Linked DNA regions of Homo sapiens: region 2 is linked to region 1. A link means that fine-mapping ties the variant in region 1 to the expression of a gene that starts in the linked region. Tissue or cell type: whole blood. Region 1 holds a variant in brackets; the other region holds the start of a gene. All regions are shown on one strand. Distances are between the middles of the regions.

The links. PIP is the estimated chance that this variant, and not a neighbour inherited with it, causes the effect.
Region 2: CA8 starts here. The variant in region 1 is fine-mapped to the expression of CA8 in whole blood (TOPMed, PIP above 0.99).

What each region holds. Positions count from the first base shown.
Region 1 is chr8:60,384,183-60,386,939 of GRCh38, forward strand. No RefSeq gene overlaps it. Among named protein-coding and RNA genes, the nearest start is that of LINC01301, 28 kb to the right of the region's middle. The variant C/G (reference allele first, on the strand shown) is at 1,264.
Region 2 is chr8:60,280,194-60,282,950 of GRCh38, forward strand. It overlaps CA8 (carbonic anhydrase 8), which reads right to left and starts at 1,207. Exons shown (of 9, transcript NM_004056.6): 1 at 855-1,207. The coding sequence starts at 954. RefSeq lists an enhancer at 683-1,189 and a silencer at 1,182-1,390.

The sequences.
Region 1 (2,757 bases):
GATTATTAGTGATCTTTTTCTTTCTTCTTTTTTTTTTTTTTTTTTTTTTTTGAGACTGAGTCTTGCTCTGTTGCCCAGGCTGGAGTGCAGTGGCGTGATCTCCACTCACTGCAAGCACCACCTCCCGGGTTCACTCCATTCTCCTGCCTCAGCCTCCCGAGTAGCTGGGACTATAGGCGCCTGCCACCATGCCTAGCTAATTTTTTTTTTTTTTGCGTTTTCAGTAGAGACAGGGTTTCACCGTGTTAGCCAGGATGGTCTCGATCTCCTGACCTCGTGATCCGCCCACCTCAGCCTCGCACAGTGCTGGGATTACAGGCGTGAGCCACCACGCCCAACCTCTTTCTTCTTTTCTCCCCACCTTACCTTATAACTTCCAGCACTACTTTAAGTACCTTGACTTACTTTTTCTTGTCAGTTTTGATAACACTTTCTTTTTGTGTGTGTATACATAATCAAGTCTTCTTTCCCTTGTTATTTGATCTGAAAATTTGAAAATCAGCAAACAGTATTTATGTTATTATGACTATGTAATATTATTGTCTGTACAGCCAAGTATTATTATTACATTCCAAATTTTCGTGTTCTTTAAGAGTTTCTCCTCCTCCTCCTCCTCTCCCTTTTCCTATTTCTCCTCTTTCTTCTGCTTCAGTTGCTTCTTTGCATTGCTTGCCTTTATCAAATCTTTACTTTTCCAGTTTCTCAAAGATCCCACAAATCGTCAGCCTCCCATTTTTCCAGATCTTTCCCTCTTTGTGCCTCCATCTAGACTGAGGGTCTGCAGATATGCTCCTTAGCTATGATGCGGGAACCTTATTTTGTTATTCCTCTGAGATGGACCCCATGCCTTCTTTCTTGATTTACTCCCTTCTTTAGCTGGACTATGTCCTCCAAGTAACTCCCTAAGAAACTATATGGAACAAGTAAACCTAAATCCTACATACCTGAAGAGCTGTTCATTCTACCCTCATTCTTGATTGAGAGCTTTGCTGAGTATATAATGTGAGATTGAAAATAGTTTTACCTTGTAACTTAGAATGTGCATTCCAGCTGGGTGCAGTGGCTCACGCCTGTAATCCCAGCAGCTTGGGAGGCCAAGGCAGGAGGATCGCTTGAGGCCAGGAGTTCAAGAACTGCTTGTGCCACGCCCAGGAACTCAAAGCTGCAGTGAGGTAAGATCGCATCACTACACTCCGGCCTGGGCAACACGGGGCAGCTCTGTCTCTTAAAAAAGAAAAGAAGAGGAAGTTCATACCAGTATTT[C/G]TTAGAAATCCAGGGTTGCTGAGGGGAAGTTCAAAAGATGGTCTGATTTTTGTTCTTTTATAAGTGACCTTGTTTTTTTGCTTATTTGTTTTCTTTATCTCTGGAAATTTCTTGTTCTCTTTTAATATTTTTCTGGAAACTTTACAGTGGTAAGTTGAAATGAGTCTATTATCTATTCATTGTTCTGGGAAACTAGTGTCATTCAGCTGTAGGAAAACCTATTTTGTTATTTCTCGAAATATTTCCTCCCACCCATTTTTTCTGTACTGTCTTCCGAGATTCCTATTATAGGTTGCACATTCCTAAAATCCTGAAAATCTGAAATCCAAAATGCTCTAAAATCTGAAACTTTTTGAATGCCAACATGATGCCACTAGTGGAAAGCTGAAAGTTTCACACCTGACCTCATGTGATGAGTCGCAGTAGAAACACAGGCACGTAACACAAAGTTTATTCAGCATTTCCAGAGGGAAAAAGATCTTCCCAGCTCCCTTTAGTGTCATTATCTTTTCCGCACACTCCCAGAATCCCCCATGCAAGCACGCCCACAGGAAGATAAAGCCCCACCTGCCAGTGGTTCACCACCAAAATACAATTGCGTTTGTTTTTAAATGTGCCAATTTTAGTTGCTATTTTAATTACAAAACAAACATGTTATATACCCGTAAAATACAAAGGCAAAAAATAAAAGACAAATCGCTTAAAAATACTGTCAAATCAGTTGTTGGTGATGAGCTAGAAAAATTGGTATGGGAGAAGTTTTAAAAATCTAAACAGATTCTGCACTCGGCCAGGCGCAGTGGCTCACACCTGTAATCCCAGCACTTTGGGAGGCCGAGGCGGGTGGATCACGAGGTCAGGAAATCGAGACCAGCCTGGCTAACATGGTGAAACTCCGTCTCTACTAAAAATACAAAAAATGAGCCTGGCGTGGTGGCGGGTGCCTGTAGTCCCAGATACTTGGGAGGCTGAGGCAGGAGAATGGCGTGAACCTGGGAGGTGGAGCTTGCAGTTAGTCGAGATCTCACCACTGCACTCCAGTCTGGGTGACAGAGCAAGACTCCGTCTCAAAAAAAAAAAAAAAAAAAAAAAGATTCTGCCCTCAAATTCCATTGCAGGTGTGCTTATATCCCAGACATTTTAGAAATTATAAATGAGGCATTATAGATGTATTTTATGCAAAAAAAAAAACTACAGAACTTCCAATCAATGGACTCATAATCAATGAACTCATAATCAAAGAAGAGCTCTGGACTTATATCAAATCACTGACTAATGAAGATAGTGTTATATATGTGGGAATGAAGTAAAACTTTGTGAAGTGATAGTTAATTAAAATATGGCAAGCATTTATTACAGTACCTGACACACCAACATTACATAAATAGTGGGCATTATTGTTAGTTAAAGTGTTTTTTTTTGTTTTTTTTTGAGAAAGAGTCTTGCTCTGTCACCCAGGCTGGAGTGCAGTGGCATGATCACCGGTCACTTCAG
Region 2 (2,757 bases), 100 kb before region 1:
CAATTTCTTCTGCTTATTAGTTCAATTACGTTCAGTACCTGGGAAACAGCTGTAACTTTCAACATACTTAGTGACAGTCAGAACCCTAACTCTCATGCTAGTAAATAGACGCCCCTTATCAGAAATGCAAGTGTAGTATTTTAAAGTGTGCATATGTATATATCTGTGTACATACATATTCCCATAGTCTTTCCAAATTTTTTATAATTAAAATTATATATTCTATATTGGTTTCAACATATGTAGTAAACATCAGCACTACTGGTTGGCTCTAATAGGAGCCCTAGGTCTTTAGGAATAAATCTAGGAAACTCGAGTTTTTCAGAAAGTCAACCGCTTCTCGCCAAACCCAATGATTCAGTCTGAAATTTAGGACATGTTTTAGAAAGACTTGAGCATTGCTAGCAGGCTTCACGAAAAGACCAGAGGCAGAAACACTTTCTCCCCAAAGTCTCCAAGCCAAAAACGAATTCTTCACGCTAACACTGTCTTCCTCAGGTGTTTAGTAAAATGTACCGCTGCTCTTCTTGACTACTCAGAAGACATAAAAGGTACAGCCACGGCTTGGAGGCTAGCCCGCCCTCCGGACCGCAGCAGGTGCGAACGCCAGCCCTGCGGAAGGCTCCCGGGTGAGAGCGCAGGCGGCGGAAGAGCGCAGGCGGCGAGCACGCCTCCCTGGAGCGCCTCCCGCCCGAAACGCACCAGGGGAGTGGGAAAGTGGCAGAGACCCCCGTGGGAAAGAGGGGGCGTGGGGGTGCTCGGAGCGCGCAGCGGCAGCAGGACTCGAGTCCCGCGCTCGGCGAGACACTGACGCCGCCGCGGGACCCCGGACACCCCGACTCGCGGCCACTTACCTTCCTCGTAGCCCCACTCCACACCCTCCTCTTCTTCCTCCTCATCCTCTTCCTTCTCGGGGAAGGCGACGGTATCTTCGATGAAGCTCAGGTCCGCCATGGGAAGGCCGCGGGGCCCCTCGGCGCTCTCGGCAGCAGTGCCTGCGCCTTCGCTGGGCGCGGGGCTGGAGCCGGAGCGGAGCGCGCGTGGGGGAGTGTGAGCACGCGTGAGCGGCAGTGTGAGTGCGAGAGCGCCTCCGGGTGTGAACCGCAGTGTGAGTGCAAGCAGGCGTGCGTTCGGACCGAGTGTTCCAGAGACCCGCGTGGGAAGCGCGTCCGGAGGCCCCAGCAGAGCGAGGGAGCGGCTGTGGCCTGGGGAGCGAGCGCCTGGCGAATTTTATACCCGACCGGGGCGTGTCTGGTACGCGAGGATCCGCCCCCTTCTCTCTCTGGCCGTTGGGGCCAGGGGAGCCGACAGTTAGAATGCGCCTCGGGGCGACTAGTCCCAAGTCACGGAAACCTCGGCGCATCCCCGCCCGCCCTTCCCCCGGGGTCGCCCCCGCCGCCTCCTGGCGCTTCCTCGCTGCGGCGACTCCTGCTTGGCCGCCCGAGCCTTCCTTCCAGAAGCCCGCAAGTCTCCCAAGGTCACTCGGGACCCCTGTGTGCCTGGCCTAGCCCAGAGGCTGCTCACCTATTCATTTTCATCCGTACTCCAGGAAATACCAAAAAGAAGGGGTCCTGGAGGAGAGAGATGGGCTGCCGTGGGTAGGAGAAAGGAGAGGGCTAGGAGACCCCGTAACACAATAAAAAGAGACTCTCCAGCGGAATCTTCTTAGTATCTTCTGAGTATTTACTTTTTAAATCGTCCGTTCAGCGCAGTGGAAACGAGTTTGGAAATTTTTCCAAGAAAGTTCTATTAATTCCTAAAAACGTTTAAGAAAAGAAAATGGTTGTTATCTAGAGAAGTAGCTATGATTTAGGGTTGTGTTTTTTTTTTTTTTTTTTCCAGAAAAGGGTATTGTTTCAAAGCAGGGCTAGCAGAAGGCAGTAGACAGAGGGTGTTCGCTGTCAGAGTCTGGGGCGCTGCTGCAGGCTCACCTGGCTGTGTACACAGCTCCCATTCACCTAGTGAAATCGTGTAAATAATGAAGTGCACACATTGCATAACAAACAGGAACTCTTCTGATCCAAAGAGGTGGCATTGTTACCCTTAAACGTGCTTCTCAGTCTAGTGTTAACGACTTCAGCCCTCTGTTCCTGTGCCTTTTAAAAGCCCTGGTCAGTAACCCCTAAGTAGGTTAACTCCACATTTTTAGAAGATATATGTGCACAATAAACTCGAGTTAGGACCTTAAGTACAATTTGTTTTTTATATGCTCTGGTCATTCATGAAGATATCTATTTGCACTTTGAATAACCTGTTCCTAAATCACACCAGCCTTATGAATGCATAATTCCTCAAATAAGGATGGAAATGATCCGTTTGGGAATGTTTAGTTTCAGTGCTCATATCCTTTACTGCCTGCTAAGCACCTCCACTTTTTAAAAAGACACTTCATAGCTTTTAAAAAAAAAAAATTACAAACTGCTCCAGAAAGTACACTGAGATGGAAAGAAGTGGGGGGAACCCTCAACTCGCTCAATTCTGCCACTTTCTGGAAGGTTTAACCAAATATATGGAAAACTACTGGCCAACATTAGCTTGGAGGATAACCGGTGGATTTTAAGCATTCATATAATTTCTCTTTTCCTTAACTGTGCAGAGGACTGAAACAGTTTGAGAAACTAAATTCATTTTTCACTCACTGCATTCTGGGTGTTCTTTAGTGGACGGTCGTTTGCATCTTTGCAAGCCTGGGACTGGCAGAAGCAGAAGCCTACCCCAAAGCCAGAGCTATTAAAAATAATAAGCACTACTGAAAAT